Linked DNA regions of Homo sapiens: regions 1, 2, 3, 4, 6 and 7 are each reported to be linked to region 5. The links are microRNA targets in miRTarBase. Many come from high-throughput screens and were not tested one by one. Region 5 holds a microRNA gene; each other region holds the end of a gene's coding sequence.

What was found. The annotated mature microRNA hsa-miR-4271 reads GGGGGAAGAAAAGGUGGGG and lies in region 5 at 1,904-1,922, opposite strand. An mRNA with a match to its seed (bases 2 to 7 or 8) in the 3' UTR can be bound and repressed. Matches are read on the target gene's strand: a 7mer-m8 pairs with bases 2 to 8, a 7mer-A1 pairs with bases 2 to 7 and ends in A, and an 8mer does both.
Region 1: miRTarBase lists ORMDL3 as a target of hsa-miR-4271. Seed matches in the 3' UTR shown: 7mer-m8 at 3,386-3,392 and 7mer-m8 at 3,255-3,261.
Region 2: miRTarBase lists ASXL3 as a target of hsa-miR-4271. Seed matches in the 3' UTR shown: 8mer at 925-932 and 7mer-m8 at 79-85.
Region 3: the mRNA of FXYD1 is a reported target of hsa-miR-4271. Seed matches in the 3' UTR shown: 8mer at 759-766.
Region 4: the mRNA of C20orf96 is a reported target of hsa-miR-4271. Seed matches in the 3' UTR shown: 7mer-m8 at 3,678-3,684.
Region 6: miRTarBase lists RBPJL as a target of hsa-miR-4271. Seed matches in the 3' UTR shown: 7mer-m8 at 3,317-3,323.
Region 7: miRTarBase lists GPR26 as a target of hsa-miR-4271. Seed matches in the 3' UTR shown: 7mer-m8 at 2,553-2,559 and 7mer-m8 at 2,370-2,376.

The regions. Positions count from the first base shown.
Region 1 is chr17:39,919,147-39,923,492 of GRCh38, forward strand. It overlaps ORMDL3 (ORMDL sphingolipid biosynthesis regulator 3), which reads right to left. Exons shown (of 4, transcript NM_139280.4): 3 at 3,966-4,117; 4 at 1,897-3,539. The coding sequence ends at 3,404. Among named protein-coding and RNA genes, the nearest start is that of GSDMB, 2.7 kb to the left of the region's middle. RefSeq lists an enhancer at 4,185-4,346.
Region 2 is chr18:33,746,280-33,750,574 of GRCh38, reverse strand. ASXL3 (ASXL transcriptional regulator 3) reads right to left here. Exons shown (of 12, transcript NM_030632.3): 12 at 1-4,295. The coding sequence ends at 3,980. Among named protein-coding and RNA genes, the nearest start is that of ASXL3, 170 kb to the right of the region's middle.
Region 3 is chr19:35,142,223-35,146,568 of GRCh38, forward strand. It overlaps FXYD1 (FXYD domain containing ion transport regulator 1), which reads left to right. Exons shown (of 8, transcript NM_021902.4): 6 at 250-299; 7 at 498-549; 8 at 695-887. The coding sequence ends at 520. FXYD7 (FXYD domain containing ion transport regulator 7) reads left to right here and starts at 1,033. Exons shown (of 6, transcript NM_022006.2): 1 at 1,033-1,142. The coding sequence starts at 1,112. RefSeq lists enhancers at 694-1,254, 1,255-1,816.
Region 4 is chr20:267,359-271,704 of GRCh38, forward strand. C20orf96 (chromosome 20 open reading frame 96) reads right to left here. Exons shown (of 11, transcript NM_153269.3): 11 at 3,505-3,909. The coding sequence ends at 3,849. Among named protein-coding and RNA genes, the nearest start is that of DEFB132, 12 kb to the left of the region's middle.
Region 5 is chr3:49,271,734-49,276,079 of GRCh38, reverse strand. It overlaps MIR4271 (microRNA 4271), which reads right to left and starts at 1,960; the gene lies at 1,894-1,960. C3orf62 (chromosome 3 open reading frame 62) reads left to right here. Exons shown (of 3, transcript NM_198562.3): 2 at 1,940-2,031.
Region 6 is chr20:45,316,225-45,320,570 of GRCh38, reverse strand. It overlaps RBPJL (recombination signal binding protein for immunoglobulin kappa J region like), which reads right to left. Exons shown (of 12, transcript NM_014276.4): 10 at 4,229-4,346; 11 at 3,991-4,094; 12 at 2,747-3,885. The coding sequence ends at 3,612. Among named protein-coding and RNA genes, the nearest start is that of MATN4, 10 kb to the right of the region's middle.
Region 7 is chr10:123,687,098-123,691,380 of GRCh38, reverse strand. It overlaps GPR26 (G protein-coupled receptor 26), which reads right to left. Exons shown (of 3, transcript NM_153442.4): 3 at 1-3,452. The coding sequence ends at 3,221. Among named protein-coding and RNA genes, the nearest start is that of GPR26, 23 kb to the right of the region's middle.

The DNA of each region.
Region 1 (4,346 bases), not on the chromosome of region 5:
GTGCACACCGTGGCGCCCTGGGCCATGCAATCCAGTGTGTTTGGAATAGAGAAATGGAATATGAGTAGGTATCAAGTGCCAGCAGGCAATGGCTGTGTCTGTGCCAGGGACATGAGGACCATAACCCAGCAGAACCAGCTGCCCAAATGCCATGCGACGGTCAACACTGAAGACCCAGGACAACAGCAGCTAACACCTGGAGGCAACAGGGTGGGCCTGTAAGGAGCACTCAGCCTCCCTCCCCATCTCGTGCTCCCGTGTACACTCTCAAGGAGATGCTGGTCTTCCTTATCTGGATGCCATCTGGCTTCTCCACCTACCTCCTTCTCCAGGGAGAGGCCTCTGACCTCACCCATGTCCTCTCTCAGAGATAACCACCCCGGTGAGCCCAGCCTGTCTTCCAGCCTCTGCATGCCTCAGTTCTGAAAGAACATTTGAAGGGATGACAGGCCAGGCGTGGTGGTTCATGCCTGTAATCCCAACACTTTCAGAGGCCGAAGCAGGCAGATCACTTGAGGCCAGGAGTTCAAGACCAGCCTGGCCAACATGGCGAAACCCCGTCTCTACCAAAAAAAAAAAAAAAAAAAAAATTAGCCAGATGTTTTGGCACACACCTGTAATCCCAGCTACTCAGGAGGCTGAGGCATGAGAATTGCTTGAACCTGGGAGGCGGAGGTTGCAGTGAGCCAAGATGGTGCCACTGCACTCCAGCCTGGGCAACAGAGCAAGACTCAGTCTCAAAAAAATAAATAAATAAATAAATAAATAGACGACAGTGGTGGTAGTAACAATTACAATTATAATAATATGGCTACCATATATTGAGTATTTACTATATGCCAGGCACTGTGCTAATGCTCACAACAGCCCTAAGAGGCATTATCTTTACACAACAGTGGAATAAACTGAAGCTCAGAGAAGTTGACACAGCAACATGGCTAATAAGTGGCAAAGCTGGGATTTGAACCCAGATCGTTGTTGATGTTCTCCAGCACCTCACCCTGACTATACTCTTGCAGGCTGGTGAAAGCAACCAGGGCACCCCTACTCCCAGGAGTGAAAGCAGTGGCTATATTTCTCTTTCCAATACTGTGTGGGCTCTACTCGGACAGGGGTGGTGGCTGGACTTGGGCAAATATCCCACACTCCCTGACACTCACTCCAAGGGTGCTGTGATGGTGGACCGGGGCTAGAGACCCCAGGCTGCTGGGGACAGCTCCTCCCTTCTACCTGGGACTTTGTGCCTCTCCTGGGAATAGCAGCTGATACTCCCCAGAACACGCTGGAAGGTCAGTGCCCTCGTGAGATAAGGATTCCTTGCTATAGGACTCCTCTCTCTCCTAGCCATGTTGGCCTCAGAAAGTCCCCAGAACCTCTTCCCCTGCCACTCAGGCTTATGGTGGGAGGAGGAAGTATGAAAAGTCCCCTCCACTGAAAGGCCAGAAGGAAACGCAGCGCTCCCAAGGGAGAGGTGACTGGGGAAAGGCCTTGGGGAGAGAAGTGAGAAACTGGAGAAGGGCTGGGGATTCACTGGGAAGGACTGAGCACCACTTGGGACCCTGGCTCCACGTGTAAACCATTGCTGGAGTGTCCCCCTCCTTGGCCATGGCACAGGTCACCCCAGCCTCTGGGGCCAAGGCGCAAGACCTGTCGGAGAACAGCCAGGCAAAAGCACAGAGAATTTTGCTCTCTGACTACCGCTGCCGCCGCCAGTTCCCTCACAGCCCCCTTGGGGGATTTCCCTGCTGAAGCCAGCAGAAAGCCCAGCAGTCCCAGCGCCCCTCCTGCCACCGTCAGAGCTGCACTGATGCCCCACCAGCACCTCAGCGGGAGCCGCTGCCCACACCCCTGCCCCCTCCCCTCAGCCTTCCAGGAAGCGAAGGCCAGACACAGGGAAACAGAAACATGTTGCCCTTTTATTTGCGTTTCTCAGAATACTGTACAAAGGGAGTAAAAATCCTATTCACACTTTGCTTAGAAAGATTTTAAGGTGAAAGTTCCCTATGATACACGGGGTGGGAGATGCAGGGTCAGGAGGGAGAAAACAGGCCCAGTGACCTCTCCCGTTCCCTTGGACCCCTGGAAGAGGACACAGGGACCCACACCTTTTCAAAATTAACACTGCCCCTAGTCCAACTGGGGAGGGGAGAAGGCTCCAGCCCAGGCTCAGGCTCCCGGCCTCACTTTCTTCTCTGCAGGCTGAGACAGTGCCTACAGGCCACGTCTTGCCCCTTCCTCTGTGCTGCTTGAGCAGGGATCCTACAGGACTCTCACCACAGACCCCACATGGGGTGGCCTCACAACGCCACATGTGGCTGCCACATGAGAGGCCCTGCCCAGTGCCAGTCTGTATGAGGAAGTTAAGGGGTGAGGGCCTGCAGAGGACCACAGCACCCATCGTTTCTGTCACAGCTTCCCCATACCCCCGCAGGAGTCAGGGCCAAGTTGGACCTGTGCTTACAATGACTCACGGGCCTTTTCCCCACCTGTCTACCCAACAGCCAACCCAGGAGTTAAACCCACAGCAGCCTCCCTCCCCTATTACTATCACATTCTGTGGGTAAATTAACCCTCCAAGCCTGCTTCCCTCCCTGCCCACATCCCAAAGGAGATTGGGTCTAGCTTCTGTCCCTACCCCTCCCTCCCTTACACCAGTCCTCTGCTGCTATGTGGCCCCATTCTTCTAAGTCTCGACTCACTAGCTCTCCTACAGCTCCCCAACCTCCACCAGGCCAGGATGGCAGCAGCCCTGGCCCCCTCACCTCTGGAACCAAGCCATCTACACTCTACCCCATCTTTCCCCAACCTGACCCTCCCCACTCCCAACCAGGACCCACGGTGGGTTGCAGAGAAGCTGCCAAAAGCCTGGGACTTGGATTAGACAGCTCCCTACCCAGAAAGGCAAAGACCCATCCCACACTTGCTTCCATACACAAAAGCACACACTGCGTGGCATCGAAAAAACCTAGGAATCACAGTGAAACAATCCAGAAGCCGTACCGCCCTCTGCTCCCTATGCAGGGGTTAAAGTGCTTTGGCTGCCTGAGGGCAAACAAGTGAGCAGGGGTTTTTCCCCTGGCCTCCTGTCGCAACTGCGTGGTCCATGTTCAGCCCAGGAGCCCAGCCCATTCCATGACCAACTCCATGGAGTCTCTATTCAAAAAGCAAAAGGAAAAGATCAAAAAATTCAGAAAAGGTCAGAGCCCAGGGGGCCTACCCCAACCCCACTACAAGCTACTCCAAGTTGGCTACTGGGGGAAGCGAGGGGGGAAATTAGGCCAGAGGCTCAACCCCCATCTCTGGCAGTGTCCAGAGGCTTCTTCTTTCTGTCTTCAGTGTTGCAGCACATGCCTTTTACCCTACCCCTCCCCTGCCACCCTGGGCAGGGGAAGGGGCTGCACTCTCAGTACTTATTGATTCCAAAAATCCGGACTCCGTGGAGCTGGGGCAGCTTGGGGATAAGCACGCTCATCAGGGACACGGTGTTGAGCACAAAATGGATCTGGTCGTACTTAGTGTAGAAGCTGGTGAGGAAGTACCTGGGAGGGGAAGGGTGGGGAGAGATATAAAAGACTGTTGGGAGGACCCCTTCCTCCCTCACTTCCTGGGAGGGGAAAGGCAGAATCCCAACAGCTAAGGAGTTACAGAAGAGGTTCCCAGACCAGCGTAAGAAGCAAGAGCTCTCAGGCTAAAGGGGCCCCTCCTGGCCCAGTACCGCCCCCACCTCCCAGCTTCACCCCAAGCCTGTAGGCCTATCTCACTAGCAGGAAGGAAGCTCCAATGGAGGAAAGATGGGGCCAGGGAGGCCCAAAGCCTGAGTCCAGTGTAAGACCCAGGAATATTCCAACTTCCTCTGTTCATCCCTACACCAGGAGCCACGGCAGGGTTAATAAGCATGGCTGGGCCCTGGGGTCCTCCAGGCCTTGCCCTGCCTGCTGGTGTCTTCCTGTAGCCCAGGCACTCACAGCACGATGGGTGTGATGGTCAAGAACTTCCGAGAGGCCGTGAACTGGACCCCATAATCCATCTGCTCCCAGTGGGTTAGCAGCCTCGCCTTGCCCTGGTCCGGGGTCTCAAAGGGTGTCCCCTTCACCGTGTGCAGGAAGATATACATGCCCTGGAGGAAGAAGTCTTTGTTAGAGGATACAAAAGGGAAAGGCCCCCCTGCCCAGCTCCTCCACCCAGTCACAGACACAAGTAACTCCCAGTGATCTGGAGCCTCCCTCTGCTGGGCAGGGGGATATGGGCTGGAGGTCAGGATGGAGCAGCTGGGAGTATGGCAGGAGAAGAACAAGGGGACTCCCTGGGGGACGGGCTAGGCCTGGCATGAGAATGCACGGTGGAAG
Region 2 (4,295 bases), not on the chromosome of region 5:
AAAAAATTGTACAAACGAACACACATTAAAAAAAAAAAACTACTGAAAATATGTATCATATCAGGTTTCCATGAAGCAGGGGAAGGAGGGGAATACAGCAGTACAAGAAAATTATGGCAACCAAGTAAAGCACTTTCTTTGAAACATTCAAGAACAGTACAAATACAACAAAGTTTTTCTACAGTCTAAATTATTCTGCAACTATCAAATATAGTACAAAGCGAAATAGTATGTGCTATAAAAAAGCAGCTCCTTTAAATTATAGTAAAAATGCTTTTTGTTCTTTTTACAGTGACAAAGCATGAAGACTGAAGACGACAGGAATTTTATATTTAGTAACATTTTGGCTACATAGGCCCCTGACAGTCTGATTCAGAGTTCCTGTTCTAGGACTCTTCACAATTGTTCTCTGGGAACGCAGATGGACAGTGACTCTGGGCTCTGCATGCTCAGGGGGTCATTCCCACTAGGCAGCTACCGCTGTGCTGGGCCTCACCACCGTACAGACGATGCTACCCTAGGCTTGGCTTCAGCTTCTAAAACCTGGGACTTCATTACACCACGGAGGAACTGGGAAACCAGAGGCCACGGTAACTTCCACTTTTGAAATTGTGCGGGGGTTTGTAAAGGAAATGGGGCTACAGCAACATGTATTCTTACTCTCGACTGCATTATAAAGCACCATATGTACCAGCTTGTTTTTGTGTATTTTGAACCGAGTAAGAATATCCAAGGTCCAGCAGTCAACTAAACTTTCTATATAGCTCATCCCAGAAACACATACCATCCCAAAGTCTTTATAGCAACCAGGCTCAACCTCATAGGTTTGTTTTCAAGTTTTTTTTTTCTTCAAACTAGACCTTCGCAGGGAAATATTATATAACTATGGTGCTCAGTTCACCAAAATTTCTACTATTCTCATTTTGGGGAAGAAAAAATTATTTTCATTTTGAAAATGAATTTGCATCACAATGCTCTTATTAACATGCCCATTAACTAACCTAAATGTCTTTATACACCTCAGGCATATGCATATCTTATAGGAGGAGGATTAGGGAATAGCAGTTTTCTTCCTTCCCCTGCTCCAAAAGTGCTACTTAGGGAAATACATCCTTTGTGATTAAAAAAAAAAAAATTGTATGGTACATGTGCAAGTTCTATTCCTGATAAGAATAAAACTGTGTCCAGTAATCAGGATAATGCACATGCTAACATTTGCACACTACACCACAATAACCATGTAGTAAATAATATACTACATTTGCACATAGCAGACACATGTAGAAATCAGAAAACTAAGAACCTACTCAGAATATACTGGATTTTGTGTGTATATATATATTAAATGGAAACCTATAAAATATCTGACCCACATTTTACATCTAAATTTCTCTTCTTCCTTTCCCTTATATTTTAGCTTAAAGATATTAATTTTTCAGTAATATAAACCATATGAGAACACTAGGAATTTGAACTGGAGCAAAAAAAAAAAAAAAAAGGGCGCAGAAAAATTATGCTAATCGGACCTGGATGATAGAATCCATGCACTATCAACAACTGATTCTCCAAGCCTGTTATGTGAAAAATCAAAACATACAGAAGGACACTTTTTCTTATTCCCAATAAGCAACTTGCAGGCAGTATTCAACAATGAAGGAACTGATAATGAGCTCAGTATCTCATCAGCCTCAATTGTACCTCACATACTGAGTGCAAAGGTTCTGTAGACTGGAGTTTCTTCCGACACCATGTCAGTTACTGATGTGATGGTTTTCAATTTGCTGGTGTAGACAGTATCTGACACTGGTATAGCAGTGAATGAATTTGGAAGGAGTTGGCATGCAAGTGTCTATATTATAGGGGTGCCCCGCTGTGAGACTAACAGCATGATCTTCGAAATCAGGATGATATCAGAGCCAGGCAGACAAAGACACCACTGATAAGGATGCCACCCCAACACAACCTGGCAGGCAGTGAAGAGAAAACTAAGGATCCACTGGAACTTATGCTGCTTTCCTCGGGTAAGGCTGGTTAAGTGCATTGCTAACTAACTTTCTCAGTCATTAGTTTTGCCAATTTTACTGTGAAAAACAGAAATGACAGTACTGAAGCACCAAAATCATGGCTACAGCAGCAGGCCTTTTCTTTCTTTCTAAGATAAAGTAAAGTACCTCTCACTATCAGCAATTTGTTATTCGAAATGATGTCTCTATCACCTAAAGAAAGAAATTTGGCAACATCACAATAAATACGGAGAAAAAAACATATTATATAGTTGGTTATTATAAAAAAATCACAAGTGTTCTTGTTTTCAGGAATGTAATTTCTGCTCATTCCAGTCAACTTTTAAGACGTGTTTTACGGGAATGTCAAAAAGTTTACAGTGATTAGGATGATCCCATGTGAAAATATTGGTCATTCTTACCCTGGATACAGATGATTCCCCACCCCCCCCATGTTTGCTTTTTAAATTCTACAGCCACAATCAATCAATGGGTTAATGGCACTCCACATTTTGTGCTCTGTAATCTGAAGTTAAATGGGCATGGTTGGTTTTTGTTTTCTTTCATCTTCCCTCAATGTGCATGTGCTTTTGAACTTGCTTTTGAAAACAGAGCCTCCTGAACTACGGCTGTCCTCTGGTATGAGGGTGGCCAAAATATATGGAATGTAGCTCAAATACTCAACACGCAGACTTTACTGGATGCACACTGAAGATAACTGTTAAGATGCAGTATCCCTTTTTCAAAAGCAGTTCCCCCAAATATGAAGAATGTATTGAATATACCTGAGGGAAAAAACAAAACATGCCATACCTAGAACAGTTTTTTTCAAAATAAGGGTTATTTCAAAGTTGAATTATATAGGTTGTAAATAATGAGAAAAGCAATTGTTCTGAAAAATGTTGACGCTTTAGCCTTGGGTAGTCCCTTTTATCATCAATGACACTTTTAAAAAGATATGGCCAACCTCTGCAAGGTCTGAAGCCAGAATGAATGGGTGTCATCAATAAAGGGCTACAATGATTTCCACCCCCCACTTTTAATATCTAGTAATTCATTAGCGTGAATAGGATATTTACATTATCAATGCATTTATGTGTGCATATACAGCATCTTATTTCCTTGCTTTGAAGTTTAGGGTCTTTTTTTTTTTTTTTTCAAACCTGCTCTTAAAAGCCACACATGAAGCTCTAAAATCCTCTGGGCTTATGGCTATTGGCTGGCCAATTGCTCTCATATTATCAGGTGTCAAAGGCCTAGAACCAGATTGCTGGGCATGAGTCCCATGCAATTTCAGATGTAGGACACATTTCACTACAATATGTGTACAAAATCCAAGGAAGATCCAGATATTCTGCCATAGTCTCTGAGAAAGTACAACAGGAGGAAAGATAATACTCAGGACAGTGGATTTCATTAATGGCATACCTCCTTTAATATATCTTTTGTGATAGGAGCAAATACAAGGAATCACACATTTAAATCAGATTCCCCTTTCTAAATAGGATTTAATCACTGTGGTAAAGCTAGGTTCAGAGAAGTCAACTGTAAAATTCCTTGCTGTAATGGCTCATCTATAGAAAAATGCATAACCACTTTAACTCATTCCTCTCATTCTCCTTACACATCTGCATTTCCGGTTATTAAGTAATTAAAAATGTCCTTTTCCTATCTACACCTCGGTTAAAAGAAAAACAAAAATGGGGCATTGACTTGTATACACATGGACAGATAGAAACTTTCCAAAGCTAGGAATGGCAACTGAACACATAAAAGACATGCCAGTGAGCCATTCAGTTGGGATGCATCCTCCCCTTTATGAGAAATGCAAGAAAATAATGCCATAGAGGAAAGGTACCTGCTCCAAAGCAAAATAAATTAGCATGATAGAAACCACTGCATTATTCTATTTGTTGTTGCTGATGCTATTTGGCTTTTCCGTGTGGAAAAGGGATACTGCATCTTTCACTCAGCTCTTATCGTACAACCAGGCATGCTACACAAAGTTTTGAAGGACCTATGCAGTCGTCATGGCAGAAGGCCCCACAGCCTTTGCACACAATCATGGCTTTCAGCCGGCAAGAGCATTTCAGTTCCAATTCATCTGCATTGCTGCTGTCGGCAAAGTTCTGAACGGGCATCTGAGCGTTCTGACCAGACAAGCCTGTGGCAGGATTGGAGCCACTTCCCAAAATCCCAATGGACTTTTCAATTGCAGATGCTGCCCTTTTGAAACTCGTGCTACCAAAGTGTATTGTTGGATAATTTCCACAGAGCTGCTGTTGTTGCTGC
Region 3 (4,346 bases), not on the chromosome of region 5:
CCCCACCAACTTCACATCCCTGCCCCCAAATCCGCGGAGGTACTCACTGTTAACCAGCTTAGAAGCCCCCTGCCAGCACATAAGCTGCTCCTGGGTGCTCCTCATTTCTGGCGGACCCCGAGCCTGCTCTTCGTCCATATCTGGGCCTAGTTACACCAATCTGGGAAAGGAGGCTTGTACTGGGGGGTTCCTAGAAGGGCAGCCTCTCCCCCTTTCCATCCCGAAATCCCTCTGCCTCTGTCTTCCCAGGACTGGGGAACCCGATGAAGAGGAGGGAACTTTCCGCAGCTCCATCCGCCGTGAGTCTGGGGAGACTGCGGGTATTCTGGGGAGAGGGCTGGTTCCAAGGACCGCTTTTCCCGGCCCTCCCTGGCTGCGTAGAGGGAAGGGCTGGATCTGAAAGCGGAGGGCGGGGAGTTGCCCCGCCGCGGGCCCCACCTGCCCAGGAGCTGGGGATGCCTCTCCAGAATGACCCCCGATCTCCGTGTTCCCCCCAGGTCTGTCCACCCGCAGGCGGTAGAAACACCTGGAGCGATGGAATCCGGCCAGGTGCTGCAGCTCTGACACGGCGGTGGGAGGGAAGGAGGGAGGAAGGAAAGGCGGGAGAGGGAGGGGGCCAAGTGCCAGAGTTGAAGGGCGGCGAGGGGTGGGGCTGGACGTCCCCCCTCGCCTCTCACCCTTTTCACCCTCACAGGACTCCCCTGGCACCTGACATCTCCCACGCTCCACCTGCGCGCCCACCGCCCCCTCCGCCGCCCCTTCCCCAGCCCTGCCCCCGCAGACTCCCCCTGCCGCCAAGACTTCCAATAAAACGTGCGTTCCTCTCGACAGCACTTTGTCGGTCTCGGTCCCTCAGCGCGAAACGCCAGCGCCACTGGGCCCCAGCAGGGGGCGCCCCACCCTAGAGGAAGGGGCGGGGACGACGGTGGTGGGCGGGGGCGGGGGCGGGGGTGGCCTGCACGGGGGCGGGCTCCCCGGGCCCCCATTGGCTGCAGGCCCCCCCACGCCAGGGCTCCCCCCAGCTCCCCCCCACATCGGTCCGTCCTGCTTCCAGCTGCTGCAGCGCGCCTTCGCCGCCAAAGCATCCAGCAGCCCCCTGCTCCGGCCCAGCATGGCGACCCCGACCCAGACCCCCACAAAGGGTGAGCGTCGTTTGGGGAGGGGGTTGCAGGGGGGCTCCGGGATCTGAGAGCCTAGGAGAGAGGGTGTCGGGAGATTCAAGCAATGGTAAGGCAAGGGAGTTGGGGGAGGGAGGTCCGCTCCTCCTGTGGGCGGAAGCCCCTGTAATGCGCCCCCCCGATCGCCCCTCCGGGTCTCTGGGACACCCCCTCCCCGGCAGGCGTCCTGTGCCAGACCTGCGGTTGGAGAGTGGCAGTCCCGGGAGAAGGGATGCTCGGACAGGTCGCTATGGCAACCGGGTGGCTGGTCCCGCACCGTGGTGGTAGCAGACGGGGAAGAGATGAGCTTGCAGGGTGGGAGCGGGTGGGTCTGCGACCAGAGACGTTCTGGAAGATTTCAGGGTCCCTGGGGTGGGCAAGGGAAGGGGAGGAGGTTCATGTCCCTCTTCTTTCCAGTGCTGTCTCCTAGGGTGTCTGTTTCCTGAAACCCTTGACAGCCAGGTTCAGAGGAAAGGAGTGAGAGCTGAAGGAAGAGACAGAGAGAAGGGATATAGCAAGAGACAGACAGGGAGAACCTGGAAGAGACAGAGACCAAGAGAGGCAGGAGATCCAGAGTCACAGATACAAAGACCCAGGAAGACAAATAGATGGACTCAGAGAGATTCCCAGTGGAGGGGAGAGGCTGAGAGCAGTAGACAGAGATGCAGAGAGAGAGAGAAAAAAAAATGAGAGCCTGGGAGATAGTGGGATTGAGACCGCTATGGAGAGAGAAGCAGAGAGACGGAGGGAGAGAGACGGACCCATGGGGAGAGAGGGGAGTAGAAAGAGAAGAAGGGAGCCATGTGGGGTGGGGCCCAAACCACTGCAGTGAGACCCTATGTGTGGGAATGGGGCGATGGGACCCTCCTTCCAGCCCACAGCAGGGGTGTTTTCCAATCCCAGAGGTGCTGTTGGGTATACACCTAGCTGCCCCTACTGCCCCCATCCAGCCACACACTGATTTCCATTCCACACCAATTAACCCAGTTATGCACCCACTTAAACACCCACTTCTACCGTCGCCCCCTAATAGCCCCCACTGCTAATCCTGCTTCTGCAGATGAGCAAGGCACAGACTGCTTCAAGAGGGAGCCAGTGCCCAGCAAGGGTCTCCAGCACTGAGGGCAGGGGACCAGGGGTGCTGAGAAGCCCCTGGCAGTGAAGGGAACCCGAATTCCACTTGGATGGCTCCCTCCCTTCCGCGCTTCCCAGCAGGCGGGGGCTGCTGCACTGAGCCATATCTGCAGAATCCGAAGCAGGGCGGGGGGTGGGGGGGGCTGCAGAGGCTGGAAGCTACCCTAGGGAGGGGGGCAGGGCTGAGGCAGCAGGCCTGGCGGGAGCCCAGGGCTTCTTTTTGCAGAGGTGGTGGTTAGCAGGATCGATGGCAGCAGACGGGCAGAGGTGGGAGGACAGACTCCTCAACCCAACCTCCTCTGCCTCCCCCTTTCCCAGTCACAGCATGACAGGGGACCGCAGGTCTCGGGAAACCCCGGGGGAGGAAAAGCATGTTGTGCATTGCAAGCTGCTTAAGGAAACTAATTAATGAATTGTTGGGGAGCGAGGGGGGAAGAGGGGAGAGTCTCCCTCCACCCTGCCAGAGAACAGGAGGGAGAGTTAGGAGTGAACAGAAGAGGGATGCATGAGCACAGCTGGGTCCGGGTCCCTATCCCTGAAATGGACCCTTAGCTTGGCCAGAAGCCAGTCCTGCAGGGGCAACGGCAGGAGGTGCAAAAGGAGGGGAGAGGGTCAAGATTGAAACCTGCATCTCACACAGGACCTCACAGGGGACCCCACCCAGCCTGGGGTGGCGGGACCTATCACCTCTCTTCACCTCCCAAGATGCCCCAGTTGCCATAGCAACCACCTCCTTCCTGATATCTCTTTGGCAGCTGGCCAGGAGTAGTGCACATTCCTTTGCCTGACTCCTGGCCCCACCCTTAGCCCAGCCACGCCTGAGGGCCCAGGTTGCCGGGGCAGCAGGGACCAGAGGAGGATCTTCCGCATGGAGGAGGATCTTCCACATGGAACACCAGATTCTGGGACAGGGGCTCACCCAGTGGGCTCCCGATAACTTTGGGGAAGGACGGGTGTGTGGAAAACAGACAAGTGAGACAATCCACCTTTTACAGCCTCCTGCAGCCTAGGACTGCCTCATAATCATTCCTTCATTCATTCATCCCAGAAAACTTGAAGAGCCTTTCATAAATGTCAGGATGAACAGCAGTGATGAGTCAAACAAATTTACTCTCTGGTGGGGAAACTTACACAGAGCACAAGGGACCCTGAAGCAGCGTCTCACCATCTTGGCGCTTTTGAGTACTACCGTCACAATTTTTGCTTTATTCAAATATTCCTCACACTGCTATTTATTTAATTTTTTTCCTTAAAAGGATTAGCTTTTTTATTTTTATTTTTTGAGACAAGGTCTCACTCTGTCGCCTAGGCTGGAGTGCAATGGCACGATCACAGCTCACTGCAGCCTCAACATCCTGGGCTCAATCTATCCTCCTGCCTCAGCCTCCCAAGTAGCTGGGACTACAAGGCACTTCTGCTACACCCAGCTAATTTTTGTATTTTTCATAGAGACTGCTTTTGCTATGTTTCCCAGCCTGGTCTCAAACTTCTGGGCTCAAGCAATTCACCCACTTTGGCTTCCCAAAGTGCTTAGGATGACAGGCGTGGGCCACCATGCCCAACCCAGGATTAGCTTTTGAAAACAACGAGCTTTATTTTATAGCACCATCACAACTGGAAAATTAATCTTCTTTTTTTTTTTGAGACAGAGTCTCGCTCTGTCATCCAGGCTGGAGTGCAGTGGCACGATCTTGGCTTACTGCAACCTCTGCCTCCCGGGTTCAAGCAATTCTTCTGCCTCAGCCTCCCAAGTAGCTGGGACTAGCAGCGGCACACCACCACACCCAGCTAATTTTTGTATTGTTAGTACAGATGGGGTTTCACCATATTGGCCAGGCTGGTCTCAAACTCCTGACCTCGTGATCCGCCCACCTTGTATTCCCAAAGTGCTGGGATTACAGGCATGAATCACTGTGCCCAGCTGGAAAATTCATCTTCTTTTTGCCTTAAGTTGAAGGCAGCATAAGAGCAATCTGAAGCAGGTGATTTCGCTTTTCTGGGTCTGGTGTCCCCCTTCCAGGAAATGGGGATGAAGATCGCACCCATATGAAAGAG
Region 4 (4,346 bases), not on the chromosome of region 5:
CAATTAGCCGGACTCACTGAGCCCCAGAATAGGGTTTTCAACCAACTCCTACTAAAATTAAAAAGTAATGTGTGGTATAGATTGGAATAATAGACATTGGAGGCTACAAACGATGGGAGGCGGAGAGGGGTGAGGGTTGAAAAATTACCTATTGGGTGCAACATTCACTATCCGGGTAATGGGGCACTAGAAGCCCACTCCACCACTATGCAATATATGTATTTGTACCCCGTAAATCTATAAAAATAAAAACTACATTAAAAATAATAATAATGTCTGGTCATCTAAATAGTACCTCTACAGCTTATTAAGTGCTCTGGAGACGTCCCAGTTGCCTGTCCTTCCCATTAAAGGTGATATCCAGTGCTGATTTCCCCTTCAACCTCGGGTTCCCATAAACCTCTTCTTTCTCACTCCTGCTGCCCTCCGGTACTCCAATAAAGAATGATAGATGGGCCGGGAGCAGTGGCTCACGCCTGTAATCCCAGCACTTTGGGAGGCCAAGGCGGATGGATCACCTGAGGTCAGGAGTTGGAGACCAGCCTGGTCAACATGGTGAAACCCCGTTTCTACTAAAATACAAAAATTAGCTGGGCATGGTGGCGGGCCTCAGTAATCCCAGCTACTCAGGAGGCTGAGGCAGGAGAATCGCTTGAACCCGGGGGCAGAAGTTGCAGTGAGCAGAGATTGTGCCACTGCACTCCAACCTGGGCGACAGAGCAAGACTCCGTCTCAAAAAAGAAAAAAAGAAAAGAAACAGTCCCAGTATGCATCCATGTGCATGTGCATGCAGGTGTATCTGCCTGTGAGAGCTGCGCACGCGGCTCTGAGTACCTGGGAAGACACCCATGTACAGATGCTGTACATGTGCGGGGTCACTCTCTGGCGCATTCGGAGGCATGAGGGCTACGTGCAATGCGAGGGAACCTATGTCCAGGCTTCCTTTCTTGGTTTTCCTCCTCTGAACTCATGCATCCCTTCACAAACAGTCCAGCTCCTGGCTAAAAACCTATGTGTGATTTTTCAGCCCAAACACAGGCAATGACAGGTTTTACCTGGCAGGCCTCACAGCTGAGTCGTGCACAGCTGATGCGTTGCAGTCTTTAAAGACAGTTGCAGACACAGACTCAGGCCTCCTGGACAGTCGACCTCTCACACACATCTCCGCTCCCAACCCAAGTCTTCATTCAGACACGTCTTCATTGCAGTGGGGTAGGCCTTCGGCCAGGACCTCCTTATCTTGGGGAGTGGAGAATCCTTGAAGACACTTTCCTCCATGCTGACTCAGAAGTTTTCCCACTCTCCCTTCCCCACCCCATCCCTGGCCCCCAGGTCCGTACAACTTCAGGAGCCTTTTTGTTGGAAGCTTTTCTGCAGTGAGACCAACCCCACACCTGTGCTCATCCACCCGACCCCAGTTGGCATCATTCTATGAGGAAATTAGAACAGGTGGATCTGTGTTCTACAAAATAAAACAAACCAGGTTCTCTGGTTTAGCCTCTTTCTTGTACTGTAATAATAAGAGATTTGGGGCTTGGCTATTACTTGCTTTGACTTTTTTTGTTTTGAGACAGGGTTTCGCTCTGTCACCCAGGCTGGAGTGCAGTGGTGCGATCTCGGCTCACTGCAACCTCCGCCTCCTGGGCTCAAGCAATCCTCCCACCTCAGTCTCCCTAGTAGCTAGGACTACAGGTGCACACCATCATGCCCAGCTAATTTTTATATTTTTTATAGAGATGGGGTTTCACCATGTTGTCCAGTCTGGTCTCAAATTCCTGAGATCAAGCAACCCACTGGCCTCAGCCTCCCAAAGTGTGAGGATTACAGGCCTGAGCCACCATGCCGGGCCATCATTAATCAGCTACTCCAGCACTTAGCAGTTCAGCTCTCTCCTGCTCAGCTGAGCTCCTGATTGTACAGTGGTTAAGAGCAAACTGCCTCTGCCACTTAGTAACCTGGTGACTTGAAAAATCACTTTGCCTTTTCATCCTTTGGTTTCTTCATCTGTAAAATGAAAATAACAATAAACAATACCTACTTCACAGGGTGGTTGTTGTGAGGGTGTAGTGAGTTGATGTATGTAAAGCATAACGTAGGTTCCATTGAAGTGTTTGCTATTGTGTTCAACAGGGTCCATTTCTGCTTGGAGATCCACATGGCTCTGGGGAGTACCTGTTGGCTCAGCCTAGGTCACGTGTTCCACCTTAACCATCCCTTCCCTGCTCCAAGGTAGAGCCCGTGACCTGAACTAAACCAGCAGGCACGCTCCACCTCCAACACCGGCTCAAGGTGGGCGTGTAATATAAGCTGGTTCAATTAGAATGAATCTTTTTTTTTTTTTTTTAAAGACGGAGTCTCATCCCCCATCACCCAGACTGGAGAGCAGTGGCACAATCTCAGCTCACTGCAACCTCTGCCTCCCAGGTTCAAGCAATTATCCTGCTTCAGCCTCCTGAGTAGCTGGGATTACAGGTGCCTGCTGCCACGCCCAGCTCATTTTTGTATTTTTAGTAGACACAGGGTGTTGCCATGTTGGCCAGGATGGTCTCGAACTCCTGACCTCAAGTGATCCACCCACCTCGGCCTCCCAAAGTGCTAGGATTACAGGCGTGAACCACTGTGCCCAGCCCAATTACAGTGAATCTTAATACACTGGCTGAAAATTCTGGGACACAGCCAGTCTCTCTCTTTCCAACAGGACATGTACAAGGACCTGTACAACCCTGGGAGATGCTGGCATATTGGGGCCACAAGCAGTGCTGACCTGAAGAAAAGGGCAACACCTCAGAAAACAAAGTAGATAAATAGAAACCAAGTCCTTGGTGCCATCACTTGATTTCTGGACAAAGCCTCACCTAAGCTATTTATTGACCTGAGCCCTTCATAGTTTAGGCCAATGTGATTTGGTTGTTTTGTTACCTGTAACCAAGTATCTTAACACAAAGTGGATCTGTGAGTGACCAGAGCCTCTTGGGGGTTGTAGCAATCTAGTAGTTGGCCCAGAAAGGCCAACTCTGAGATGGAGTGTAGGGTGCAGAATGTTGAGTAATGAGTGCTCTTGGAATCAACAACTGAGGAAGACAGAAATATGCAGGATTGGGCACAGGGAGAAGTTCAGCTGCAGTGCAGGCCCAAGGGTAGTTGCAGCTGAGCCTTCAGGAAGTTCTGGAGCCAGAGTAGCCCTTCTGAGTTGTTCCAAGCACTGAAGGCCTAGCAAGTTCCAGGGGTATTAAAATCAATAAGCCTGTCAGCCCCGACAATGCCCTCAATAGGTCTGGGCACAGATTGGAGAGAAGCTGGGCTCCCACTGCACCAGGAGGGAGTGGCCCAGAGCCACTGAGCCATGGAGACTCAGGCAGGGGGTTGCTCCAGCACTTCTTCTGGAGAAGTTTTGAGCCCCAGATGCAGTTAGCACAGTTGCCCGCCCCTTATCATAAGACGAAGTCCGTTCCCACCACATCTTCTGCAAGACCTAGCTGGGGACCCCGAGACACTGGCAAAAAAGCAAATGTAAATCCAGCTTTATTGGTAAAAAAGGAATAGCAGATTTAATCAGAAATTCCCACCTGGCCCAGCAGCACCAACCAGAAAGAAGGGAAGAAGAGAGGAAAAAACCACAGGAAGAAAGAAAGGAGGGAGGGAGGGAGAGGAGGAAGGAAGGAGGAGGGAAGGGAAGGGGGGAAGAAGGGAGGGAGGGAGGGAGGGAAAGAAAGAGGGAGGAAGGGCAGAGGGAGCAGGGAGACTGTAGATCAGGGTCTGAATGGAGATCCGGTCCTGGAAGTAAATGATCCAAGGCTCCAGGTGCTGGGAAGAGAGCAGGAGGGGAGGGCGGCCCATGGCACTGCCATCTAGAAGGGTAGTGGCTCTTCCACAGGAATGTTGAGGATGACATCCATGTCTGGGGTGCACCTGGTGGGAGGCAGCACAGAAGGCCATGAGAGACCAGAGGTGGCGGTGTGGGAGCACCCACTCAGAGGAGCCCTGCTCTTTAGAACTCTGGTACGTACTTGGGTTGGGGGGCAATCCCAAAATACAATCTGTGATCTATCTGTGACCTCAAAGCCCAACTGTGCATACACAAGCATACACACACACACACACACACACACACACACACACACATACACACACATCAAAAATGGAAAAGAAATGAGTTTGGCAGGACAAATGTTCCCCTGACAAGTCTGAGGTCAAGAGGGAGCAGGAACTCAGCTCTGAAATGCTGAGGGCCCTCAAGATGATCACTGGCTTTGGAGTGAGGATGACAGGTTTGATAACTTTGACCTGTGTCACCTTGAGCAAGCTATTTCTACTCTCCCAGCCTCACTCCTTCAGTTGGCACTTAA
Region 5 (4,346 bases):
ACTCCTGTGTTTGAATCTGGACACTGGGGCCTTTGATACCCTCCTTTGCCCACATTAGGGAGAGGCTTAATTGAAGGCTGGGCCCTACTTCCTGGCTTCATCTTTGCCTCTGCTCCCCGCTCTTACCCCAGATCTTTTTGGACCATCACCAGGTCTCTTCTAGACTTTTTCTTCTCCCGAGTAACTTGAAATTGCCTGGTCCCAGGCACCTTGACTTGGAGAAGGGATGAATGTATGAGATGAAACTTCAGGCCGGGCGCGGTGGCTCACACTTGTAATCCCAGCACTTTGGGAGGCCGAGGCGGGCAGATCACGAGGTCAGGAGATCGAGACCATCCTGGCTAACACGGTGAAACTCTGTCTCTACTAAAAATACAAAAAATTAGCCGGGCGTGGTGGCGGGCGCCTGTAGTCCCAGCTACTCGGGAGGCTGAGGCAGGAGAATGGCATGAACCCGGGAGGCGGAGCTTGCAGTGAGCCGAGATCACGCCACTGCACTCCAGCCTGGGCGACAGAGCGAGACTCCGTATCAAAAAAAAAAAAAAAAAAAAAAAAAAAAACTTCAAAGTTCTGCCATCTTGGCTGCTTCATAGGAAGGGGATAAAGAGGCCATTTAATTGGTTCAACTCCACAAGAATTTTTTTCCTTTCAACTCCACAAATATTTATATTGGTACTCATAAGCAGTGCAGGCCTTGCCGGGTGTGGTGGCACGCCTGTAATCTCAGCACTTTGGGAGGCTGAGGTGGGTGGATCGCTTGAGGTCTGGTGAAACCCCGTCTCCACTAAAAATACAAACATAAGCCGAGCGTGGTGGCGCGCGCCTATGATCCCAGCTACTTGGGAGGCCGAGGCAGGAGAATTGCTTGAATCCTGGAGGCAGAGGTTGCAGTGAGCTGAGATCTTGCCATGGCACTCCAGCCTGGGCAACAGAGCAAGACTCCATCTTAAAAAAAAAAAAATGCTGGGCACAGTGGCTCACGCCTGAATCCCAGCACTTTGAGAGGCTGAGGCGGATGAATCACCTGAGGTCAGGAGTTTGAGACCAGCCTGGCCAACATGGTGAAACCCCGTCTCTACTAAAAATAGAAAAATTAGCTGGGTGCCGTTGCGGCCGCCTGTAATCCCAGCTGCTCCAGAGGCTGAGACAGGAGAATCGCTTGAACCCAGGAGAAGGAGGTTGCGATGAGCCGAAATTGCGCCCTTGCACACCAGCCTGGGCGACAAGAGCAAGACTCTGTCTTTAAAACAAACAGGCCAGGCGCGGTGGTTCACTCCTGTAATCCCAGCACTTTGGAAGACTGAGGCGGGCAGATCACCTGAGGTCAGGAGTTCGAGACCAGCCTGGCCAACATGGTGAAACCCCCATCTCTACTAAAAATACAAAAATTAGCTGGGCGTGGTGGCAGGCGCCTGTAATCCCAGCTACTCAGGAGGCTGAGGCAGGAGAATCACTTGAACCTGGGAGGCAGAGGTTGCAGTGAGCCGTGATTGCGCCATTGCACTCCAGCCTGGGGGACAAAGCGAGACTTCATCTCAAAAAAATAAATAAAAAATAAAAATAAATAAATAAGTAAACAAATGCAGGCTGGGTGAGGTGGCTCATGCCCGTATTCCCAGCACTTTGGGAGGCTGAGGCGAGTGGATCGCCTGAGCCCAGGAGTTCGAGACCAGCCTGGGCAACATGGCTAAACCCTGTCTCTAAAAAAGAAAAAAATTTAATACAGTCTGCGATGCTCGTGAGTCATTATGGTAAAGCTGTTAGTCAATTTCTCCACTGATGTAGCAGTTTCCAATTGTCCTTTAATCAAAGCATAAATGACAAGGTCACCAGTAAGTTTTTGTCTTTGAGATTATCTAAAACTGAGTTTCCCTTCAATATTTTCTTGAAAGAGAATCTAATTCCCCACCTTTTCTTCCCCCCCACCTGGGGGCTGCAGGAAAGATATGGAGAGAGATTTGAAGGCTGACTCAAACATGCCACTCAACAATTCTAGCCAAGAGGTCACAAAGGATCTGCTTGATATGATTGGTGAGTACAGTGGGCAAGTCCATCCTGTCCTTGGGAAGATAGGTCCTTCACATGGGTCTGAGTCAGCAAATATCTCAGATATAAGAAATGCTCTCGGCCAGGCACGGTGGTTCATGCCTGTAATCCCAGCACTTTGGAAGGCCGAGGAGATCGAATCATGAGGTCAGGAGTTCAAGACCAGTCTAACCAATATGGTGAAACCCCGTCTCTACTAAAAATACAAAAATTAGCCAGGCGTGGTGGTGCACGCCGGTAATCCCAGCTACTCGGGAGGCCGAGGCAGGAGAATTGCTTGAACCCGGGAGGCAGAGGTTGCAGTGAGCTGAGATCTTGCCACTGCACTCCAGCCTGGGGGACAGAGTGAGACTCCCATCTCAAAAAAAAACAAAAAACACTCTCTTCTAGCTTGGGTACCATACATAGCGAGATCTGTCTCTTAAAATTTTTTTTAATTAGCTGGGCACAGTGGTGTGTGCCCATAATCCCAGCTACTAGGGAGGCTGAGGTGGAAGGATCACTTGAGCCCAGGAGTTCAAGCTATGATCATACCACTGTACTGCAGCCTGGGCAACTGTGCGAGACCTCATCTCAAAAGAAAAAACACCACCACCACTTTTTGGGGGGAGAGACAGAGTCTCATCATATTACCCAGGCTGGAGTGCAGTGGCACGATCACAGTTCACTGCAGCCTCAACCTCCCTGGGCTCAGGTGATCCTCCCAGCTCAGCCTCCCAAGTAGCCATAGTACTACACTAGTACTACAGGTGCACGCCACCATGATTGGCTAATATTTGTATTAGGGTTTTGCTGTGTTGTCCAGGCTGGTCTCGAACTCCTAGTCTCAAGTAATCCACTTACTGTGGCCTCCCAGTGCTGGGATCAGGCAAGAGCCACCACTCCCGGCCAAAACACTCTTATCTTTTTATTTGGTAGATGTTTTGCTCAGACTCTGCATTGATTAGGGAACTGAATGTTAACAAAACCTGTCCCTTCCCTCATACAACTGATTATCTTGTGAGGTGATAGATACATCAATCAGGTCATGTCATCAATGTTTAGATGCACTGAGTCCCTGAAGGCAAGGGATGGTGGCCACTAGGACATGGTGATTGAGCTTAAATTTTTAGGAAACAGGACATAGGCAAAAAGGAGAGAGTAATTTAGCTGGGGTCAGTAATTAAAGATTAGGAGAAAAGGGCTGGGCACAGTGGCTCACACCTTTAGTCCTAGCACTTTGGGAGGCTGAGGCGGGCAGATCACTTGAGGTCAGGAGTTCGAGATCAGCCTGGGCAACATGGCAAAACCCCTTCTCTACTAAAAACACAAAAAATTAGCCAGGCGTGGTGGTGCACACCTGTAATCCCAGCCACTTGGATGGCTGAGGCATGAGAATTGTTTCAACCCAGGAGGCAGAGGGCAGAGGTTGCAGTGAGCCGAGATCGCACCACTGCCCTCCAGCCTGGGTGACAGAATGAGACTCTGTCTCAAAAAAAAAAAAAAAAAAAAAAAAAAAAGATTAGGAGAAAAATTAGAAGTCAAAAGCTTTCCTATAATTCTACCACCCAGAGATAACCACTGTTAATATAGATATAGTATAGCATACATCCTGTCAGACTTTTTTTCTACATACAAATCTGAATGTCCTGTATGTGAACTACATGTGCTCTATTTTTTATTTTGTCTTTTTATTATTAGTAGTAGTATTTTTTATAAATAGAGACAAGGTCTTGCTTTGTTACCCAGGCTGGTCTTGAACTCCTGGTCTCAAGTGATCCTCCTGCCTCAGCCTCCCAAAGTGCTGGGTTTACAGGCAAACCATGCCAATGTGCCCTGTTTTTAAAAAACTCATACTACAGCTCCTAGTAAAGGGATGTATAACCGTGGGTGCTGCCTGAAGCTGTTGTTTCTGAAGGATCTCCAGGTTATGAGGGAGGAAAGGGAGGCCTGGTGAGGGTAGGGTACACCCCCTGGGCCACAAAGTAAAATCCCTGCCAGCCTGTGACTTCAGTGGCCTGAGTCTCCTCCAGTAGCCCCAGGAGGTAAACTGAAGTCATTACTGCCTCTACCCACCATCTTCCTTGGCTTTCACCAACATCAGGGAGGTTTTTTTGTTTTTTTTTTTTGTTTTTTTTTTTTTTGAGACAGGGCCTCACTCTGTTGCCCAGGCTGGTCTCAAACTCCTGGGCGCAAGTTATTATTCTACCTCAGCCTCTCAAGTTGCTGGGATTGCAGGTTACACACCACCGCTCCTGGCTGGGCAGCAGTTTATTACCCTAAAGACCTTGTTTCCTTGTTTTTTTTTCACATTGTGTCTT
Region 6 (4,346 bases), not on the chromosome of region 5:
GACCTCAGGTGATCCACCCACCTCGACCTCCCAAAGTGCTGGGATTACAGGCGTGAGCCACTGCGCCCGGCCCGGTATATTAATTTTTATAGCGTGGCAAATGATTCTAATATAAAGAGGACTAAATTAATCCATAAATGGGTTTTAGTGTTAGGAAATTCCCTGGAAGTATGTAGAATTCTGTGCATAAACCCCCAAAGGGTCTCCCTCTGTCACCCAGGCTGGAGTGTAGTGGCACAATCACAGCTCACTGCAGCTTCCACTACCTGTGCTCCAGTGATCCTCCCTCCTCAGCATCCCCCCGCCCCCACCCCATAGCTGGGACTACAGGCGTGCACCACCACACCGGCTAATTATTATTATTATTTTTTTATTTTTTTGAGACGGAGTCTCACTCTGTCCCCCAGGCTGGAGTGCAGTGGCACGATCTCGGCTCACTGCAAGCTCCGCCTCCCGGGTTCACGCCATTCTCCTGCCTCAGCCTCCCAAGTAGCTGGGACTACAGTCGCCCGCCACCACGCCTGGCTAATTTTTTGTATTTTTTGGTAGAGACGGGGTTTCACCGGGTTAGCCAGGTTGGTCTCTTATCTCCTGACCTCGTGATCCGCCCGCCTCGGCCTCCCAAAGTGCTGGGATTACAGGCGTGAGCCACTGCGCCCGGCCCTATTTTTACATTTTTTTGTAGAGATGGGGGAGGGGGTCTTGTTATGTTGCCCAGGGTGGTCTCGAACTCCTGGGCTTAAGTGATCCTTGCGCCTCGGCCTACCAAAGGGCTGGGATTAAGGCCCGGTTTTTAAATATAAATAAAATGAGAACTTAATGCTCGGGTGGAGAACAGTGCCACCTGCCGGTTTCACTTTGCATTAGCAATATCTAAATATCTGCCAATGCCATATAATGCAATTCACTGTTTATTGAGCACCAACTCAACATGCGAGGCATTGTGATGCACCCTTTAGGACATGCAGAGATAAGAGCTCCTTTCCCCATGAAGATGGCAGCCTAGAGGAGACAATGGGCATGTAGGTAAAACCTTTGATCCAAAGCAGGCAGTCGATATGGTCCCATTGAGGGTCTGTGGGAATACAAGAAAAAAGCCTGGGGCCAGGGCTGGCTTCGTGGTTGTGCAGCCTGTGCTTGGAAGGCCCCTGCACTTGGTTTCATCATTTCCTGTGGCTGTCTTGAAGTTCTTTTTTTTTTTTTAATCCCGTGTTCAGTCGAATTGAAATTCTTGAATAATTTTTGAACAACGGGCCATTTTGCACTGGGGCCCACAAATTATATAGCTAGTTCTACCTAGAGTAGTTTGGGAAATTTTGGAAGAGGCGACACAGGACCTGGCAGGGCAGTAGTGGAGGGAGAGGAAAACAGGAGGCATATGGTAGTGTGGAAGTGGGGGTGGGATCCTTAGGCCTGGGTGACTGGGTGGTGTGGGGGAAGGAGCTAGAGGTGGTGCTGCAAGGCAGGTGGAGAGGGAAAGGAGTTTGATGTTAGATGGCTTCAGACTCAGTGCAAGGAAGACCTCCAAGGACAGTTTCAGCAGCTGGAACTCAGAAGCTAGGCCAGGGCTGGAGCTTTGGTCACAGACTTCCAGATGGATACCTTGGGGACACCAAAGGTTATAGGATCCCCTGAGATGGGTGAGGACTAAGACAGAGCTGTATGGCTGGGTCTGGGCTTTTGGTCCAACCTAGATTATTGGCTTCTGGGACTCCTGCCTTGAGGAGTGGTGGAGGAAGACTTTGGGGGCAGGGCTGGACGATGAGCGCTTGAGCCCCAATTCCCCATGTGGTGCGCTATGACACTCTTCTCAGCCTCCTCCCTCCTGGCTGCCTGCTTCAACACCACCATGGACGGTGAGTCAGGCGCTCATTTCAGGGACATTTCCCATTCAACTCATTTGCTGCCTTCCTCAGCCAAGATTCACCTTCAGGGGCCACAGGCTTCTTCCTCACCCCTCACAGTGGGTTGCAGCCTGCTGATGGCAGATGGCAGAACTTAGTCAAGACTTTGGGAAGGCTAAAGAACATACCCCATTTCCTCTCCTCTGCGTATTGTTCGTTTCTTTTTTCTCATGGGACTTTCCATACCCTGGGGGAGGAGTTTTACAAGAAATGAGCTCTTCCTTAGGAGGGCAAGCTCTTCTCCAGAGGGTTAGAACCTAGAACCCACATTTCAGACCAGTTTTCCCATCAGGCACCACCAGAGGCTGGTGCAGGTAGCTGGCACCCATGATACTTATCTGTGTCCTTGATTCCAATAGCCCAAGCCAGTGTTCTGCCTGGTTTTTTTTTCCTTCCCTATAAAGCACAGACTGGGTAGAGTGGTACCTAGGGTGGGTAGGCTGGTGGGGAATAGATTGTGATTCTGTCCATCAGCCCCATGCAGAGAGGCCCCCCTCTCAACTACATTACTGCCCAGTCAATCCCAGGAGTTCTGCCCAGGGCTATCCTGGGAAAGCTTTGTTTTGAAAGGGTCCCGTGGTCACCTCTGGGCCTGGGGTGCACCCTTGCTTGGGATGGAGAGATAGCTAGTAGGGTAACAACCCCAGGGCAGGGACAGGGACTCAGGATGCCAGCTGCCTCTGCACCCTGTTCCTCCTCTAGAAAACGTCCAAAAGGTAGGCTCTCTGCTCCATCAGACTTGTGGTTCTTTTCTTTCTGTGCAGGTCCCCTCTTTTGTGTGTTGGTGCGAGGGTTGGGGGAGGCACACTTGGGGAGGTGGCTCATACAGACCAAACTCTGCCTTGGATAGGATTGATTTTAATGCAGCTGTAGAATCCCTGATCCTCAGGACTGCGTCCTGCTGGGCCTGTGGGAGAAGTGACTGGGGGGGACAGTTAAGGCGGCAAGACCTCATCACTGTCCAGGCACCTGCCCAGCCACCAAATCTGTGGACCAGGGAGCAAACACAGGCAAAGGTACTATGCCTGGCTGCAGTCAGAGAGAGTCTCGGGAGGAGCAGGTCTTTGTGCTCTAGGGCAGGACACAGTGCTCTAGGTGGGAACTGGTGCCCCAGGTGGGACCGAATTCCCCAGGTGAGACTTAGAGAGACCCGGTGCTCCAGGTGGATCTAATATTCCAGGAAGGACCTGGTGCTCCAGGGTCCTGATGCCCCAAGAGCTTGCCCCCTATGCCTGGATGTGTGAAGCTGTGTGTTTTCTCTTCAAGAGGGGACACAGATGCCTGGAGGGTAAATGTCCCAAACTTGGCTCCTCGGGGCATGTAAAATTGTGTGTGAGAGGCAGGGAGAGCTGAAGAGAGAAAAGGACAGAAGGATAGGGACACGCACATAGGTCTGTAGACTAAGTACTGAGGGGGAAGGGAGAGAGAGAGAGGTTTAGAGACAGAGTGAGAAGAAATGAAGACAGGGAGAGCCATACACGACGGACACAAAGACAGCACCACTCAGGTCTTGTCTTCCTGTATGTGTAAGGACAAGGGAGGGAGTGAGCCGGGTAAGACCCACCAGGCCCGGTTTCTAGGGTGAGCCTTCAGCTGCCCTTCTGCAGCAAAGGGGCAAGGAAGCAGGGCCTAGAACCCAGAAACACGTCCCCGCGCCTGGCGCGGGCGCAGCCCTCCAGGGTGGGCAGCCGGGGCTACCGGGCGCGCCTAAGTCTGGATGAAGAGGTGGAAGTTGGTGCGCGTGAACTCCTGATGGATGCTCTCCAGGAGCGCGTCGGCGTCGGTGGCGGGCTCGGGGACGCCGGGGTGACCCGGCCGCACGCTGTATTCCGGGGTGTAGGTGAAGGAGAAGGCACTAGGGTAGAAGAGCCCGTCGGCGCGCACCAGGCTCATGGGGATTGTGATGGGAGCGCGCAGCCAGCGCCAGTCGCTGCAGAAGGCCGCCACGTCCGGCACCACGCACACCAGGGACCGCGGGCTCCTGGGGGTGGAGCACCAGGGTGAGGGCTGCGGCGACTCCGACGACGCGTGCACCCCCTTCCCCTGCTCCCCGGGGCCCAAGAGAGGCTGCCTCACCACCCCGTACCTGTACATGGTTTCTGCCTCCACGTCCCCAAACCACACCTTGAGCCCCGCGTGGAAGTTCTCTCCGTGGAGCTCCAGCGTGGCCACGTCGCCCCCGCCGCTCAGCTGGGGGAGGGTGGGACCAGGTGAGGTGAGAGAACCAAGTAGGGCGGGAACCCGCTGCCCCCCACTCACTAGCACCACCACTGCCCAGTGCAGGCAGGGTCCCCCTGCCCAACGCCCCTAGCGCCCGGCTTCACCTCTAGGGTGCTGATGAGAGGCACCGGAGTGACCGGCTCCAGGGTACACGCCAGGCTGGTGCTGAAGGAAAATTCCACCGACTCGGTGCCGATGATGGTCCAGCAAGAGCTGTCGTTA
Region 7 (4,283 bases), not on the chromosome of region 5:
GAGTTTTATTGCTCATGGGGACAGGAGGCTGAGCTGAGTGCTAGAAGAGATAGAGTTGGTCTGAGATGGTTCAAATCCATTTCCCCTCCTGCCCAAGCCTGCTTTCTAAGTAAAAACAGGCAGGTGATTGGTGAGCCATCTTTGAGAGGCGAGCTGACCATGAGACAAACCCTAAATACCAGGGCACACATGCAAATGGACGTTCCCTTTGGAGGTCCCTCGGCTGTAAAATCCCCTCCCTCAGAAAGGTGCCATATAAAAAGCCGGAATAGTTGCAGCGTGACTTAAAAAGGCAAATTCTGATTGTGTAGGACTAGGAACTCAGCCCTATATGTGGATTTAGGAATTTGAAAGCCCCTCCTTTATGGCCTTATTTTCAAGCTTCTTGAAAGATTTCTACCCAGTCCAACAGTTCACCAGAGTTTGGGCCTTAAAGGTCAAGTCTCACCCTGGAGTGAAGTCAAGCAAGTAATTTTAGTTTGATTCAGATGCTGAAAATCTTGGTGTTTCTATGTGTTATACCTGAGAAAACAATGTTACCTTTGATAAATTAAATTAACAAAATGAGGTAGATAATTCAATTGGGAGTAATAAAGCCAGGGGGCAAATTTGATAGACTGTATAGAGATGAAAATAAACATTTATCTAAAGGTAATTACAGCAGAGTTGGCTAACACTGGTTGCTAATACATTAATTTTCTTCTCACTTTCCCTTGGGATTTAATTCATGTGTCCAAATAATAATGAAAATACCCAATCAATGGATTTATCTGGAGTTTTTGTCTACGTGATGTCGGTACAATTGGTTTTAGAGGTATAGTGAAAATTATGAAAAGCATCTTTTCAAGATATGTGGTGTTGTGGGTGACAGATCTTGCTTCTTGGCTAAAGAAGAGGTAAAAGAGATCTAGTTGCTACTGGGAGTACAACATGTTGCCTATACAGTACAGAGAAAGCAGAAAGAGCATGTGCCACAGTTATTCTCCCAAAGTGATATTGATGAAAATGTATTTTGCTGCTGGAATTTGGCTGTTGACTGACCTCACGCACTGGGCCACTTTTGCCCAACTTTGAAAGCGTTTGTGTGAGAAGGGAGCTACTCTCCTCCAATTCAGCTGTGCATCCTGTCTTGGCTTCTGCTGGTTTTCAATCCCACTGGTTCCTCTGGGGTTGGGATGTTGGAGGGTGCACAGTTACTTGCCACCAGGAAGCAAATGTCTGTTGCTATTGTAATATGAGTGGCCAAAGGAGCTCTGAGCCAGAGCAATTTTGTTTCAGGGACACACACAGTCATGTCTGGCAGTGGTGTGCTAGTAGATGTTTCACAATCAGCTCTCTGTGGGGCAAAAGGCCTGATTTACAGCACTTGCTGATTTTCATGGTATAAACACTCCCACCGTGGCTGACTTCAGCTACCGACATGATGCCCCAGATCATGAAATTGGGAAGGATTGTGCCCCATTGGCTTCCCCAAGCAGATATGAGCCCATCTCTGACAGCAACTGCAAGATGCCAAGGCCTCCTTGGAAGCTACACCTGTCTCCATTCTAGTCTCCATGGTAACTTTGAAACTAGACAAGACTAAGCCAGGTGAATTGTTTTCTAACTGAGGAGCTAAGAGTTAATAAGACGTCTTTTCAAATAAAGATGCAGATACTTCTCTGCCTTTAAAAATTGGGACTGCCTAGAAGTAAAAACCAATAGACTCTTCACTTCCTTCCCGTTGGACCACATCCTTCCTTCTATACCTCCAAAGTTAGGATGTAAAGAGCTGGAAGGAGAGAATGAGCCATCTGATTCCATTGCTCCCCGTGCTTCCCACCCTGGAGGAATCACTTAGAGTGGAGGATTGAAAAATAACTGCTCTGAGTATTCACAAGTCAATTTGAAATGGTAGACAAAGAAGAGATGGCCAGAAAGCAGGGGTGGCTCTCCTTGGTTTTTATTAAATCAAGTCAGGACTGCTAACAGATTGGCATGTGTTTTATAGGTGCAGTATTCCATAAAAATTTCACTGTCTCTAATCACTTGAACCTGGAAGGCAGAGGTTGTGGTGAGCCTAGATCGCACCATTGCACTCTAGCCTGGGCAATAAGAGTGAAACTCCCATCTCGAAAAAAAAAAAAAATTCACTGTCTCATCATTAGCACAGGGCACTTTCTTGATAACCTTGAATAGCCTCTACTTTCTGTTAACAGGCTTACAGAAACTAAGGAAATGGAGGTGCCAGGACAATGGAACCCAGTGACTTAAAATCAAGGCAAAAATCCCTGCTCAGGCCAGTTCTTGCCCATCCATCTCCCAGGACATGCCAGATAAGATGCATAAGACAAGTTGAAACACTTCCTGTAAATTCAGGTCACAAACAGGGGGAAGGGAGGACCAACCAGCCACCTTCCTCCTACCTTTACTGAGCTCCAACAATTAGGACTTGTAAATCAGAAAAAGGTGACCTCCCAGTCAAACTTGAAAGAACCTAATACATGTAGGACCAGCCTATTTAAACCATTTTCATGCTAAGATTGTCTGCACACACAAACATTCGCTTTTAGGGGGAAGGAGAGGACTAAAGTTGAATCCAATTGACCATTTCTAAGACAACTGGTCAGCAGCAATTGGGCAGCCACTAGTTGTGAAACATTTTCCCTCAGGCACAGAGCCCAAGAGTCCCAGCTGGGCACAATGTCGTTAGTACCAGCTGAATAATATTTGGGTTGAAGCAGCCACCACTACCCTGTGGAGACGAGGTGCCATGTTAGATCCGGGCCAAATGACCACTGCCAGCCTCCCTTTCAGCATGGCTGAAATGTCCCCTGGAGACTGTCACTTTTCTTCAGCATGGAGCAGCGTCCAGTGGTCAGCAGGCAGGTGGACACCATGCTTCCCACCTACCACCAGCTCTCTGCATCCTTGACAGTGACAGAACTGAGTGTCATCCCCCAGGGAGCCTCAGGTGAGTCCAGGAGCTCAAAGCAGCTTCTTAGAAAGAAAGGCCAGCACACGGCCTACAGTCATCCTTTGGTGACAAATAAGGAGTGTCCAATATCTGCCCTTGAGGAACCAGGAAGCAGGCTCTGGAGCCCCTACAAGCCAGGGAACCAGGATCACTGGGCATGCCAGGGACTGGTGGCTGGTGGTGTCCACCCAGGGGCCCCCACGCCCTCCCACCCTTCTTCTCACCGCTGCCTCATTCTAAACTCTTCAGCAGGAGCGCGGTCCTTCACTCAGACACCGGCAGAATGTTCTGGCTGTGAGAGTCGCCTGTGAGGCCAGAGGAGTGGATGGAGCGTCTGTGCAGGAGCCTGTTCAGAATCTCCTTGCAGCTTTTGCGGTACTGGTGTCGCAGTAAGGAGTACACAAAGGGGTCGGATGCGGCCTTGCTGTACGCCAAGCACTTGGACAGCACCCCCCAGTGGGAGCCGATGGGCACCGTGGAGAAGAGCTCCACTAGCCTGTGGAGAGACAGGGAAGCTGTTAATGAGGACATAGCTAAGCACCGCTGGGAGTGGCCATGGGCCAGGGCCTGTCTGTGCCCTGCAGACCACGGTTTCGCAGCCCAACCCTCAATTTATCTGAGACTGCCTCCTCAAATAACAATAACAGTTTACACCAATGATGATGATGGTGAACATTCATCAGGCTGTATTTTATTCTACACACTGTGTTAAGCACTTTCCATATGTGGTTTTGCTGAGCCCTGGGAGATATGACCATCTCTGTTTTACATGCAAGGAAACAGATGTCCCAGGAGGTTAGATACTTTGCCCAAGGTCACATGGCCAGTAATTGTAAAGGCAGAATTTGAACCTAGGTCCGTCTGACTCTGAAATCCAAGCTGCACTGAGAACCCAGCTATTAGCTAATAGCTGGCTGTCTTGGCTTTGGCGCCAACTCTGCTGCTGACTTGTCATATGGTCCTGGGCATCTCTGTTCACTCCTTGGACCTGCATGTCTCATGTGAAAAACAAAAAGGTGGGACAATATCGTCTCAATGATCTTTTAACTAGAAGAGTCTGGTCCCATTGTTTGCTTCCGATCCTGGCTCTGTGTTCCTAAGGAAGTTGCATGGAAGGAAGGGCTCAGAACAATTTTGAAAACATTTTGCAAAGCTCAAAGTATGTCATGCACAGGAAAGAATGCTGGCAAGGAAGGCCTCTTCCCTGGGTTCGGATCCTGGTGGTCTTTGACAATAGCCGCGGTCAGGTGATCCTAAAGGGACCTTCATTCTTTGGGGGAGGGCAAGGAAAGACACAGCCCATGTATCTTAGAGTCCTCTCGGTGCC